Linked DNA regions of Homo sapiens. The protein of the gene in region 2 interacts with the protein of the main gene of each other region in a pairwise test. Each region holds a gene or a part of one and is shown on either strand. Other genes may lie near its edges. The genes, in order: AMER1 and AMER3.

Region 1 (7,559 bases), on a different chromosome or scaffold from region 2:
CTGAGATACCTTAAGCTCTGCATGGTCTGAAATCCCCTTTCTTGCTGGCTGTGATAAATGGACCCTCATTTTCTATCTTTCCCCTACACTCCACAAAAACCCCAGCCCCTATAGTCAAGCCTAATTTAGGTTGCTTCTCTTCCCTTATCTCAATTAAAAGACCGTGTTCCTTGTGATGAGATTATGAAAATTTCCTTTAGAGGAAAAAAGAACAAAAATTCAAAAGCATCTGCAACTCAGGTAGTCACAAGCTTAAAAGAAGGAAAAAAAATCCTATCATTCCGGAGCTCAACACTCTATGGCAGTGTCCACAACAGAACCTTGTTTTGTCTTCTGTTTGCAAATGGATGAATTTTATCACTCCATCAAGGGGATTAGCATTTTTGTCTTTAACCCAAGCTATGGCAGGACAGTTAAAAGGCCCCCATCTGGTCATGATGCCAAAGTCCACAGCGATAGGCTGTGAGACACACGCTACTTGATCCTCTCTAAGGACAGCTAGCTGGGATGAATAGCTTATAGTCATCTGATATAATGATGGCAGCTATGCCAGGCCAAAAGGAATAGGGGTGGGGAGGATCTGTACCATAATTTCACATTGCTAATAGCAAATAAGCCCCACTTCCCCAAGCGGGAGGCAATGCAGACTTGGCTGCTAATCAGTGGTTCATCATTCATTGGGGGAAAGGGGCAGGGGGCACTAAAGGTTTAGCCTGTGTCAAGGATGCATGCTATATATGTGTGTGCATGTGTGTTTGTGTGTGTGTGTGTATGTATGTGTGTGTGTGTGTGTGTGTGTGTGTGTGTATATATATATATATATATATATATATATATATATATATATATAATCACTAACTTGGCAACTGGAATAGGCACAAAATTACAGCATCCCAAACCCAGCGTGGGTCACAAGAAGAAACCTCGAAAGCAAAAACTGGAGTGCAGTAGCAGCAGCAGCCTCCCTGGGCAGATGCACTTGAGTTGAACGTGGCCATAGATGGCAGAAGAGGCAAGTGGGAAAACCAAGGTGAAAACTCACAGGAGTTTTCCTTGGCCCAAAGGGTTTTCAAGTTAAACAACAACCCCCACCCCCCCACCCTTCTGCCCAACCCCTGATCCCCATTCACATGCTCAGGCCCCGTGTCCCTACTCCAGAATTGATAATAACTACTTGGCTAGGTTTCCATTCATGGCAGTGGAGGAGTAGCTGGTGGCAAGAGAGGCACCTTGCTCAGCCCTCTCCTTTGACAGGTCAAGGCTGGAAGGCCCATAGTGAGTGGGCTGAGGCTGGGGGTGCTCAGGCCGGACCCTGGGCAGCTGAGGAATGCCATGGGTGATGCCCACAGGCTTGGCCTGTGGTAGAGGGCTGGGGCTGAAGCCTCCAGAACTGGAAGAGCAACTGGGCTCATCAACAGGCAGCAGCACATCTCGAGGCCTGGCCCTCATGCTCTGGGAGGCCTGTGGCTGGAGGTTATAGCAAGGGCCCATGGGCAGGTGTAGGTGTGAGGGACGAGCTAGTTGAGGCCCAGATTCCCCAGGTGCCCTTGACTCTGGCACTGATAGTGATATTGACATGGTCATAGGAGGTATGCAACAGGTTGCCTGCCTATATGGAGACTGGCTGGAAGGCCTGTCCAACTGGTTGGGGCTTATCCAGGCAGGACCTGGCCCCACTGGAAGAGGACAGGGAGCCCAAGCAGGCCAATCATAGGCCCCTGGGGGTTCAGTATAGAGGGAAAGGGGACTGTCTCGGCTCCATTCTCCTTCTTCCTCCTCTTCGTCCTCCTCATCTGAATCTTCCTGCTGGGCCTGCAGCTCATCAGACTCGAGGTAGCCCTGGACCAAGTGGGAATTGGAGAGCTCCATCTCCAGGGTCTCTGCAGTGTCGAGAGAGCGGCTTCTCCTGTTGAGGGCCATAGCAGCAGGTGGAGGTCGAGGGTGCAGGCCAGGCAGTCCCAAGTATCGAGGGAGGCTGCTCACACCCCAGGGCAGGCCTTGGTAGAATCGACTATGGTAGTTGTTGAAGGCATGTTTGTGATAGTAGCCCAGCTCAAAGGCTTCCAAGGAGGCTGCAAGATCTTCATCATTGTGGAACTCAGGATTCTCTTCACACTTGCCTTCCCCATCCCGTTCCACATCAGCGATGTCAAAGGTCACCATGGGAGGCAGCTCAGGGAGGTTTTGAGTGAAAGATGAGTCAGAGTCAGAGCTGCAGGACATGCTGGAAAAGAGGTTCCCATTGCTGGTGAACTCTACCAGGGCCTGTGAGAAACTCACAGTGGCATTCCCTTCCTTCTCAACCTCCTCTTCCTCTGGATCTTCAGGGGGTGAATAAGTAGGGTAGGCCCTCCTGGGAGATCCTCCAAAATTTGCTTCTTGCATGTCTGGCTCAAACATGGCATCACTCTGGAAGAGCTGCATCAGGCAGGTACTTTGATCTTTCTTGGAGCAGGTTCCTTCATAACGCTTCTCCAGAGGACGGAAGTCCCTCCAGTCTGGCTCGCTGCTTGCAGTGGTGGGGAAAGCTGAGGTAATTCCCCGGTGGGAAATCTGAGAGGTCCCTGATACCCCTGCTGCCAGGCCCATCACTGATGGGCCTAAGGGCCTCATCTGATACTCTAAGACGGGCTTCTCCTGCCGGGCCTGGGTCTCTCGGACTTGAGTCTCTCTACAACGAACCTCTCGGGCCTGGGCTTCTCGGGTTCTGGCCTCCCTGCCATGAGCTTCCCAAGTGTGGGCCTCCCTGGCATAGGCTTCCCTGCCATAAGCCTCTCGAGTATAGGCCTCCCTGGCGTGGGCCTCCCTGGCATGAGCTTCTCGGGCACGTGCCTCCTGGGCCTCAAGCTGCTCCCGCCGAAGCTCCCAATACAACAACTGTTTCTGGATGGTCACTAGCCGTTCTTCCTCTGTCTCCATTGCCCCAGGTGGCCGGGAGGACAAAAAGGGCTCAAAGTTTAAGAAGGGGTCAAACATCTCAGAGCTTCGACCATGGAGGTCATAAAGGCAGTCATCTCCAGGTGGAGAGTTCTCAAGGCTGTCATCTGGCTCATAGAACTCATATAGGGCATCTCCACTGTAGCTGTCTCGGGGTAGACAATCCCTGCGGACAAGCCCCAGGGCCTCACCTGAATCATCCTCAAATCCAGGTGTGGTGGAGTCATAATAACCTTCATCACTATTGGGGGCGGATTCTTGCTGGTCACTCTGAGGAGTCAAAAGTTCCCCAGGGGCTAGGCCAGGATAAGACCTAACTGGGTCAAGGAGCATGTAGCCGTGGTGGCCTGGGGATGTGGTGGGATGGTAGCCCAGGTTCATATTGGGCCGTGGATACATTTGGGCAGTTTCCCACAGATATTCTAAGTCATCATCTTCTTCCTCCTCCTTAACCTCCTCTTCTTCCTCCTCTAATTCCACCTCTTCTTCCTCTTCTTCCTCCTCGTCATCATCATCTGGCAAGGCCATCTCCTCCCCACCTCCTTGGTAGGTCACCAGGCAGGAACTTCGCTTGGTCCCATCTCGGTTTGCTCTCTGGCCCCCAGAGGCCATGCTGTCTGTCATACTGTCCATGTCCTGTTCTGCTATTATGTCACCACAACCTGTCAATGAATCAAAGCTTTTCAGGGATGTCACATCCCCAAACAAGAGGCTCAGTGGGTCCCCCACAGGGCCATTGGGTGGGTTTACCTCTCCTGCTACTACCTTCTCCCCTGTTTCTGGGCTATGGGGCTCCTCTAGGCTACTGGCTTCAGGGGCAGGCTTGGGTTGCACATGTGCTGAGGCACAGGCCTCCATGGGTTTTTCTGGATCTTTACAGGCCATTTTCTCAGTAGCTGGTGGAGAAGGTTCTGGTGTTGGAGAAACTTTTGGCCCAGGGGCATCTTGGGGGTTAGCATTTTCCTTTCTAGGGGCTTGGAAGGTCTCCTCAAAGCAGGGCACCTGAGGGGCTGAGCTCACGTGCTCATGAGGCCTGGCTCTGACCCTCTCAGGCCCCTTGGCCCCTGGCTCACTTTGCTCAGCCCCAGTGACCTTGCTCTTCCGGTGACGGCGGATACTGCTAAAAAAGCCTTTTAGGCCTTTCTTTGGCTTGGGCATAGAGGGAAACTTCTCAGCCACAGCTTTCTCTGTGGCTCCAGCCACAGATGTCTTACATCTGGAGCCTGTCTCCAAAGCCCCATGGGCACTCTGAGAGCTGGGAAATTGGCAGGGTAACTCAGGCAAAGGCAGGGAGAAGCCAGTTCCTTCACTGACAACATCTTCAGGGCCATGGGCTGCTTCACTCAGGCCATCGTGGGTCTTGCTCTTGCTGAGACCTTTCTTGGAGCTGCCTTTCCCAGAACCTTTGCTCCGTCCCCCTCCAAAGAAACTAGGCAGAGTACAGATACCCTTCTTGCCACCAAAGAGTTTCATGGCAGTTTTCTTCAGCCTACCTGGGCCGGATGAGGATGGCTCTGAGGTTGGTCCTTCTGTCGCCTCAGCTGCCTTGTTCTTGGCTCCTTTTTCTGCTGTTTGTTCACGGGTACTCCCAGAGGCTGCAGCTCCCTTGGCCTGAGCAGCTTCATCCTTTTGGGTCTCCATGATGATGGGGACAACTGAGGTACGTCCAGCTGGAAATGCAGCCTCAGGCTTCCAGGCACTGTTATAACATTATCAGTCAGGAAGCATCACAGTGGGGTCTGGAGGAGATAGGAGAGACAAAGACAGAGAGACAGATACTAGTGAGCAAGCATCCAGGCTGGGTTTGCTTTCACCGGACGTCAGGCTTGAGTGGAACAAGAAAGAAAATGATGGAAAATGTGGGGCAAATCTTAATCCACTCGATATGCTTGGCTTGCTGGGCCAGCTCTCTCTGGGCCCCAAGGAAGCAAAACTCTACACTGAGCAACAAGAAGCCTTCATCCCCTACCTTCTTGCTGGGTCCACTCCCTTCAGACCATCCTAAGCTCAGGGGACCACTGGGCAGGGGGACCTGCAGTTGTGTGAAAGGCCTAGTGGTGCTATTGGCTGTGGGAGGTATTATCAATTATCAAAGGGGATGAGGATAGGGAGAGACAAGAAAGGCAAAAGGGATGTTGGCTCCAACATCACAGAATTTTTGAAAACCATCTGGCAAAACAGTCCATTGAGTCCTCACAGGGCTCTGTTGGATTCAAGCTTCAGTTTCATATTAGTCTGGGCTCTCACTGACATTTTGTCTGAGACTGAAAAGTGGACCTGAAGTTTCACCTCCCATCCAAAGCTTCCTAAATTGCCTGCAGAACCATGCTCAGGCTTCAGAATCTCAGAATAGGAGCCTCACACATCCACAAAGTAGGTCTGCAATCTAGAACCTGCTAAGACAATGAAATGGGAGCCTCAAGAAAGGTACTCTCTGGGCTTCAATATTCGCCATTCAAGAGGCCTATCAATATCTCTCCCTCAGAGAGGTGATATGAGGGTGGGTCTAAGCCAGACCCTCTATTGGCTGTCCTGCTGGGAAGATACTTTAATGCGGTCATCAATGGAACCCCAAATTCCACTTGAGAACCATGAGGTGGACTGTTTCTCCTCTACTCTCCTCCTCTTATTATTTTTGTCCCCATCTAGCTCCCTATCTAGGAAGGGAACTCCTTGAAGGCCCTACATGATTCATATTCCTGGTGTGTGAGATAGGTTCCCAATGGCTTTTTAAATAAATAAACCTGGTGCAAGCCACACCCTTCTGGTCAAGGCTCTCAATCCTCCAAATGCCCAAATACCAACAGAGATGGAATAAAAACAAGACCTAGCCACTACCCACCACAATATACCTCTGCACCTCTGGTCATCCGCTAGCTCAGTGACCAGCCTGCTAAAACCCAATGACCCCTCCCTGGGAAGTCCCTCACCAATTTGTCCCCTCTCTGTAGAGTGGCACCAGCAGATGGGGGAATCTGGGAGGAGAGGGGAGAGGGGAAGGGGAAGGGGAGGGAAGGAAGAGTAAGAGAGGGAGAGAGAAGCAAGCACCCTTGGTCCAAGAACAGCTGGACAGTACACCAGGCCTGTGATTGCTTGCCATAATAATAAGACTCACACATTCACCTAAAGTGGAAGACTGTGGACCAGCACTGAGCATGGAAAGAGGCTGGCAGCTACACTCTAGCCTTGGAGCCCCTGGTTCTGTCTTGCAAACATTAATTTTGTGCCTGCTGCCTTGCTTGGCTTGACACTTGAATCATCAGTGTGATGATCCAAGCTTCCATAAAGAACACTCTGCATAACTGAATATTAAAATTGGAGCAAGATAACAGCTGGTTATCCAGAAAAGAAAAGAGCAGGTGAAAAGGAAAGTTCATCTGAACCTCTCTCTGCAGAGATCTGAATTGCCATTTGCTCAGGTTAGAGATTTTTCTGTAACATATTTTGACATCACACTGTTCCAACTCAGCCCTGCAACTGATAGTCCCACAATAGACAGTGCCCCCTCCCACCTCCAAATACACACACAATCACACCTAAACACACAATCACCCAGTTTTCTGCCCCTGGGTCTGGTGGGAATAGGGGCCCTATCATGTCTGAATGCCCCACTTTCCACAGCACATTTTTACCTCAGCCTTAAAATTACTGCTAAGGTTATCGTCACGGTGTTGGGGATAGGGGAGTTGGGGAGGCAGTACTGGAGTTGTTTGTGAAATTCTATTCCCCTCTGGAATTCAGTGCTTCAGGGCAGGACAAGAAGGGAGAACTCCCAGCCTTTGCTTCTAAGGAGCTCCTAGGCTAACAGGGAGAGTCCTATATGTAACAGTCTGTTAGAAACTGGACCAAACAACAGGAAGTGACCGGCAGGCAGGAGGGCAAGGTGAACATTACCTGAGCTCTGCCTTCTGTCAGATCAGCAGAGGCATTAGATTCTCATAGGAGCGTGAACCCTATTGCAAACTGCGCATGCGAAGGATCTAGGGTGCACTCTCCTTATGAGAATCTAACAAATGCCTGATGATCTGAGATGGAACACTTTTATCCCAAAACCTTCCTCCTCTCCATCCATGGAAAAATTGTCTTCCATGAAACAGGTCCCTGGTTCCAAAAAGGTTGGGAACCGCTGCCTTAAAGAATAGCCCCTGTTATTTCTAAAGCTGGTTGGTGGAGTATCATTCTTTATACCTTGTAAACATATTCCAAGATAAATGTGAAAGGGAGAAAGACACTTCTTGGGCAGTAAGGCTGGGCCTCAAGGAAAACCTCACAGCCAAGTGAAAAACTCTAGGACCTACACATCCTTGTGAATCAAAGGCTGACTTGTCCTGCTGGGTTTGGGGCTGGAGTTCCTGGGAACAGAGTGATTTGGCAAATTGAATCACAAAGAAGGCTGCTTTCCAGAGCCTTGACGCCCCAGTTAGAAGACAGTCTCTTTGGGCTTTCCCTTGCCCTTGCTCCTATGCTCTGTGAGGGTAGAGGCCAGCCCACTCACCTCTCTCTGTATTGTCCCCTTTCCTGTCACAGGGAGCTGCAGTGTGTTGTGGAAGGAGCCATGGACCACAGGGCTGGGGTCCAGGCCATGTCAGCCTCCCATCTGCCAAGGGACCCTGAATGGGCCA
Region 2 (7,543 bases):
CCACATCCCTCCCCCAAGGAGGGTTCAGACCCGTCCCTACCCTTCGGGTGCCTTCTTGTCTGCAGGGCTCAGCAACCACCAACTATTCATTCTGGTGCTTGATTGCACTCCCCAACGAGATTGAAAATTCTTTAAGGTCCAGGACTCCAACTATAGTAGGCGGTGAGCTATTACTTAGTTAAATGAACTATTTTATATTTGAGATATCTTAGTCAAATGTTTACACCTAAGTTCCCTAAACAGGATGCAGAGTCTGAGATTTTAATTCTGTGATACAGTTTATGTGGATCATTTTCTTCTCTCCTTCCTTCCTTCCTTCTTTCCTTCCTTCCCTCCCTCCTTCTTTCTTTCTCCTTCCTTCCTTCCTTCCTTTCCTTTCTCTCTCTCTCTCTTTCCTTCTTTCCTTCTTTCTTTTCTCCCTCTGTTGCCCAGGCTTGAGTGCAGTGGTGTGATCAAGGCTCACTGCAACCTCCGTCTCCTGGGTTCAAGCGATTCCCCTGCTTCAGCCTCCTGAATAGCTGGGACTACAGGCACGCACCACCACGCCCAGTTAATTTTTTTTTTCTTAATTTTAGTAGAGATGGGGTTTCATCATGTTGGCCAGGATGGTGGGTTTTTTGTTTTGTTTTGTTTTTTTGATGGAATCTCGCTCTGTCGCCCAGGCTGGAGTGCAGTGGCGTGATCTTGGCTCACTGCAAGCTCCACCTCGCGGGTTCACACCATTCTCCTGCCTCAGCCTCCTGAGTAGCTGGGACTACAGGCACCCGCCACCATGCCCGGCTAATTTTTTTTGTACTTTTAGTAGAGACGGGGTTTCACCGTGTTAGCCAGGATGGTCTTGATCTCTTGACCTTGTGATCCTCCCACCTAGGCCTCCCAAAGTACCAGGATTACAGGCGTAAGCCACCGCTCCCGGCCTATGTGCATCATTTTTTAAGACAGCATTGACACCAGGACCCTGGGCTGAGTCTTTCATCTCTAAGACGAACTTGCAAGTTCCATGGGAACAGGGACCACACAATGTATTTACTTAATTAATTCTGTTACAGGGATGTGATATTTAAACCAAACTTAAAAGACAGAAGAGGACAGCCAGGCAAAAGACATTGGACACATATTCCAGGCAGAGAGAACACCCTTCAGAAAGGCCCCGAGGAGCAAGAGAAGTAGAATATTTAAGGATCTGAAAGCAGCTCAAGTGACCAGAGCAGCAAGCCAGAGGGATGAGGCCTGGAGATGGGCTGTACACACCACACCCGGCCTGAGGTCTCAGCGAGGGCCGTGCTTTTATCTGCAAGCCACAGGGAGCCAACCTTCCAGGGCAAGTGACGGGCCAATTCTCACTTTCAAAGATGCAGGTGAAAATGGACAGCGGAGACACAGAGGCGAGTTAGGAGCCCAAGCAGGGTTTAGGGGAGAGAAGGTGGTGGCAGAGACTCCTCTGTCTGTGCACCTCCCATCACAGTGTTTTACACGGCACACACAGACATGGATTTATTGCAAATTGGGCAAATGAAGTTATTCTACTGGTTGCTTTTCTACATGACCAACTCAGGCTTAGCTGCCCAGCTTTTTCTTTTTCCTTTGAGAAGGTAATTCCGTGGCTTTTTTTTTCCTTTCTTAACCTGAAAGTGTCCCGGTGTTTGATTTCATGGAGCAAAATAAAAACCCTGGAGGAATACACATGCCACAGAAACGCCTTGAGACAAAAAAACGTTTGGCTAATAGTTTTGGTATTTTCTATGCCTTCCCCGGTATGCAGGAAAGTCACAGCAGTGTGATACAAAGGAGTGTATGGTGATAAAAAAGCGCAGGCCCAGGGACCTCTGGAAACTGGGCTGGCGGTAGAGCTATGGGGCAATAGCGTTCTCAGTAGTAGGCTGCCTTGTCATGGGAGGGCTGGAGTGAGGGCCACTGTGCGGAGGGAAAGCGACCGTGCTCTGGGGTGGGGGTGGGAATGGGGAATAAAACAGAAATAGAATCTGCGGTGAGAGCACCACCAAGCCACCCAACCCCCACACTGGGGAGACAAAGGGCCCTCTGGGGAGGGAAGGTCCTGGCCCACCTCCTTGGAGGGCGCCTCTGGGCGGTCCTGGCCTGCCCAGGGGCAAGGAGATGGGCCTCACAGCGATATTGGCTCTCCCTCAGCTCCTGCATCCGCCGGCGGAGGGTTTCTCCGCTTCCCTAGCCCAGACCTAAAAGGGTCACCGCTCCCAGGCCCCTGACTGCGCCGGGAACCGCTGGGTGGAGGGTGTCGACCCTGCTTCCTGCCCTCAGCCCGTCCATCGCGCCAGAGAATGCACCAAATTCCCCAATCCTTGCCCTCCCCGGGGGTCCACATCCGCGGGGCAGGACCAACGCAGCCTCTCGGGGCCTTGGCGACTTACCGCTGGGGGCCCGCAGTGCAGCAGGGCGCGGCCGCGACAGGCTCGGGCACCGCGTCGGAGCGCGAGCCGCGCTCAGCACCACGGTCAGCTCCCGGCGCCGCGCGCCGCGGCCGGGAGGGGGAGGCCCGGCGCCCGCACCCACCCACCGCGGCTCCAGGGGCCCCGCGGGGTCGGGCAGGCGAGGGTTAAGCCGCCAGAGGCCAGCGGGAGGGGCGGGCCGGCGCTGGCGCGCAGGGGTGGCGAGGGGGCGCGCCGGCCGCGGTGGGGGCTGCTCCGCCAGGCTGCCGCCTCCCTGCGCCGCCGCTCGGGCCGCGCTCGAGCCGGCTTTGTCTGTTCGTATCGCCCCGTCTCTGTTTCTGGGTGTCTCTGCCTCCCACCCGGTTGCGGCTGCGCCTCCCTCAGGTGCAGTCGTCTCCCCTCGCCCCCGTGCGCACGGCGCCCCCGCCGCTGTCCCCTCTTCCGGGAGCGCACAGGTGTGGGAGCCCCTCCCCCTCAGCCCAGAGAGCCAGCCCAGCCCTGCCGACCGCAGCACTCTCGGAAGGGCTCGGCCACCCGGAGCCTCGTCACGAGTCTTACCCAGGGTTCGGAGCGGGCCTGCAAGAAGGGGCAGGCCAGGCTGGGGCTGCAAGGCAGGGTCTTCCCTTGGAGAAGGGACCTGACTCTATTATTAAGAGAACGAAAGAGGCACTTGCCCTACAGGTACTCACTGTGTGGGGTCTACTGGTGCTGTGCTCTGCCGCAGTCTTGAGGGAGGAGCAGAAATGCTGTGGGGACTCTGTCTCCGCAGAACTGAGGACGAGGGGTCTGCACGCGTGGTTCAGTGCCTGGGGCTGGGGTGGATTAAGTAACTCCAGGAAGGCTCAGGCAGCAGTGCCAGTAGTGTGGGGCGGGGTTGTGGGGAGGAGGGGGGAGCGGGAGCGCACAGTCGGTGCTGGGGAGAGGCTGATGCCAACAGGAGGCTCTCGGCCGTGGTGTGCCCAGGCGGGGCAGGACGGGAGGATGCAGGAGTCCCGGGTCCACGCTGAGGCTAAGGCTGAAGGGAAGGCAGAGCTCAGGTGGATGACGGAGGCCAGGCCTTTCCCTGAGCTTGGTGGGCTCCCTCCCGGTCACCTTGTCTGAGAACCCAGGACACAGAGTCCCCTTGCTTTGGACTGGTTTGGTTTGTCATTCCCCTTGACATCGCCTCGCCCCAGAGACAAGAGGCCCCTTCATCCTCCAGCCAAGACCTTCCCCACCCTTGGGTGACCTACCCTCTTGCATTTTTTAGATTTGAGCCCTCTTTCTATGCAGCGACTAACTCAACGTGACCCCAGAGGCCCCCTCGCCCATGTTGCTGGTAGTCTTGACCTTTTTTGGCAGATCCTGGCTGTGGGAGTTCCCTGTCTTTCTCTTAGGTAGGACAGAAGGCAGTTTCTGCCTCGTTGCCACATACACCCCAAGTCAGGGGTAGGACTCCCGCAGACCCCACAGTCCTCCTCTTGTTAAAATTAGTAAGCATTAGCCTTCCTTATTAGGCTCTCCCCGCTTTTGCATTTAAGGATTTTTTAATGTGTCTTATAAAATCATGTAATTGTGAGGATAATTACAGATTCAGCTTCTTCCAGTGAGTGACAATTGCTCATTTTCGATGCTCACATGGTCATCGTTCGGCCACTGCAAACTGTTCCAACCCTTCTACTTTGTCATTTCAGACAGTTTTCAAACACCCCTAACTTTTGGGTAACATGAAAATATATATTTCAAATTTTTTATTTCCCCAAGATGTGGGATCAGGTCTTCCCCAGGGACTCCTGGAAAAATCTTTTACACTAGGCTACCCAGTTCAGATACCACTGAATGATTTTTCTTAAATATTATTCTAATGTGAACTTACATTTTATTTTTACAATACACTGACTTACACGCCTGTAATCCCAGCACTTTGGGAGGTCCAGACGGGCGGATCACAAGGTCAGGAGATCAAGACCATCCTGGCTAACATGGCAAAACCCCCTCTCTACTAAAAGTACAAAAAAAATTAGCCAGGCATGGTGGTGGGCGCCTGTAGTCCCAGCTACTCAGGAGGCTGAGGCAGGAGAATGGCGTGAACCCAGGAGGTGGAGCTTGCAGTGAGCCGAGATTGTGCCACTGCACTCCAGCCTGGGTGACAGAGCGAGACTCTGTCTCAAAAAAAAAAAAAAAACAAACAAAAAAACACACACAAAACACTGACTTAGATTTCTCATCTGTGTTTTTGAGCAGTGGCTGTAAACCTTTTCTTTCCTGGAACTAGCTTTCTGGTCACTTGGTTGTCCCCAGGGTCTCAGACCTTCTGGCCACACCACCCCTTGCTTTCTTGGCAGGCCAAAGAGTTGACTGTGGGCACAAATGAGTCGGCCATCCACTGTGCCAGTCACGTCAGCTGCATTTGTGGGGTACCATCAGACCTACTGCTTTGAGCTGTTTCTTTTTCTTTTAAAATTTTCAATATTTAAAAACTTTTTTATTTCATATTTCCAAACAGTGAACAGTTGGTTTCTTTTTCTTAAAAAAATTTTTATCTTATTTTTTGAGATGGAGTTTCACTCTTCTTGCCCAGGCTGGAGTTCAATGGTGTGATCTTGGCTCACTGCAACCTCCACCTCCCGGGTTCAAGTGATTCTCCTGCCTCAGCCTCCTGAGTAGCTGGGATTACAGGCATGCAGCACCACGCCTGGCTAATTTTGTATTTTTAGTAAAGACAGGGTTTCTCCATGTTGGTCAGGCTGGCCTCAAACTCCCAATCTCAGGTGATCTGCCCTCCTCGCCTCCCAAAGTGCTGGGATTACAGGCGTGAGCCACCACGCCCGGCCGGTTTCTTTTTCTTTATTGTGGTAAAATATACATAATATGAAATTTACCATTTACCCCTTTTTAAGTGTACAGTTCAGTGGCATTTACACTCACACTGTTGTGCAACCATCACCACAGTCTATTGCCAAAACACGTTCCTGACCCCAACAGAAATTCTGTACCCATTAAGCACTAAAACTCCATTCTCCTCTCCCCGTAGCTGCTGGGAACCACTATTCTACTTTTCTCTGATTTTGACCACTCTAGGTACCTCATAGAAGTGGAATCATACAGTATCTGTCTTTTTGTGGCTGGCTTATTTCACTTAGCATAATGTTTTGAGGGTGTATCCGTGTTGCAGCATGTATCAGAATATCCTTCCTTTTTAAGAGTGGATATTATTCCATTGTGTGTAGAGACCACATTTTGTTTATCCATTCATCTGTCAATGGACCGTTTGGGTTGCACCACCTTTGGCTATTGTGAATAATGCTATTATAAGCAGCAATGTACAAATACCTGTTTAGGTTCCTGCTTTTGGTTCTTTGGAATATAAACCACAGAAGTGCCATATTGGAGTCATAATGGTTTCTATGTTTAATTTTCTGAGGAACTATCATACTGTTCTCCACTGTGTACAATTTGACATCCCACCAGCAATGTAGAGCATTTTTCCATATCCTCGCCAACATGTTGTTTTCTGTGTGTTTTTGTTTGTTTGTTATTTGTTTATAAATAGTAGCCATCCATTAGGATGGCTGTGAAGTCGTATATCATTGTGGTTTTGATTTGTATTTTCCTAATGATTAGTGATATTGAGCATCTTTTCATATGCTTATTGGCCATTTGTATATATTCTTTGGAGAAGTATCTATTCAAGTCCTTTCTCCATTTTTAATTAGATTGTTTGTCTTTATTGTTGAGTTCTAGGAGTTGTTTATATATTCTGGATGTTAATCCCCTACCCAGTAGATGATTTGCAAATATTTTTTCTCATTCTGTGGATTGCCTTGTCACTCTTGATGAGTGGTTTTCATTAATTTTGATAAAGTCCAGGTTATTTATTTTGTGTATTATTTCTTGAACTTTTGGTGTCATATCAAATAAATCATTGCAAAATCCAATGTCACAAAGATTTTCTAGGTTTTCTTGTAAAAGTTTTATACTTTTAGCTCTTCGATCAATTTTTAGTTAATTTTTGTATATGGCAGAAGGTAAGAGTCCAGTTTCATTTTTTGATGTGACTATTCAGTTTTCCCAGCATAATTTGTTGAAAAGACTGTCCTTTCTCCATTGAATGGTCTTGGCATCCTTGTTGAAAATCATTTGACTAAATACCTGAGGATTTGTTTCTGGGCTCTCTATCCTATTTTATCGGTCTGTATGTCTGTCTTTGTACCACACTGTTTCGATTACTGTAGCTTTGTCCCAGTCTACTTTTGTAAGCATTCAAACCCATTTATTTATTTATTTATTTATTTATTTATTTATTTAAGATGGAGTCTCGCTCTGTCACCCAGGCTGGAGTGCAGTGGTGCAGTCTCGGCTCACTGCCAGCTCCGCCTCCCTGTTTCACGCCATTCTCCTGCCTCAGCCTCCCGAGTAGCTGGGATTACAGGTGCCCGCCACTTGTATTTTTAGTAGAGATGGGGTTTTCACTGAGTTAGCCAAGATGATCTCGAGCTCTTGACCTCGTGATCCGCCTGCCTCGGCCTCCCAAAGTGCTGGGATTACAGGTGTGAGCCACTGCACCGGGCCCTAACCCTTTTATTTTAAAATTTTATGTGGAGGTTCTCTGGCTTAGCTATGTTTCTTGTTTTTATCACTCTTATTAACAACCATGCCCTTAAACACTGGGAAAAAAATAATGAAATACAGTTTATTTGGCACAATCTCATTTAACCTATAAAAGTGCTTGGGGGCCAGGTGCGGTGGCTCACACCTGTAATCCCAGCACTTTGGGAGGCTGAGGGCGGGTGGATCACCTGAGGTCAGGAGTTCGAGACCAGCCTGACCAATATGGTGAAACCCTGTCTCTACTAAAAACACAAAAATTACCCGGGTGTGGTGGCATGCACCTGTAATTCCAGCTACTCAGGAGGCTGAGACCGGAGAGTTGCTTGAACCTGGGAGGTGGAGGTTGCAGCAAGCTGATCGCGCCATTGCACTCCAGCCTGGTCAACAAGAGCAAAACTCTGTCTTAAAAAAAAGGCTTGGGTTAGCAAAATGATAGGTTCTGAAACTGGTTGGACCTGGGGGTTGTCTACTCCAACAAGGGTGGGGGAGGGGCCTGAAAGAGCCCCTGGCCAACGAGCATAGATTCCCAACCCCACCCACACTTGGCA

Evidence for each region.
Region 1: the proteins of AMER3 (region 2) and AMER1 interact in binary tests that used the Homo sapiens proteins (3 or more experiments, as listed by UniProt).

Annotation. Positions count from the first base shown.
Region 1 is NC_000023.11:64,188,709-64,196,267, forward strand, and holds part of AMER1 (APC membrane recruitment protein 1), read right to left. Parts: intron 4,677-7,559; 5' UTR 4,579-4,676; coding exon 1,171-4,578; 3' UTR 1-1,170. UniProt on the Homo sapiens protein: Regulator of the canonical Wnt signaling pathway.
Region 2 is NC_000002.12:130,751,226-130,758,768, reverse strand, and holds the start of AMER3 (APC membrane recruitment protein 3), read right to left. Parts: upstream 3,230-7,543; 5' UTR 3,095-3,229; exon of another isoform or gene 2,887-3,094; intron 2,426-2,886; exon of another isoform or gene 2,388-2,425; intron 1-2,387. UniProt on the Homo sapiens protein: Regulator of the canonical Wnt signaling pathway. Acts by specifically binding phosphatidylinositol 4,5-bisphosphate (PtdIns(4,5)P2), translocating to the cell membrane.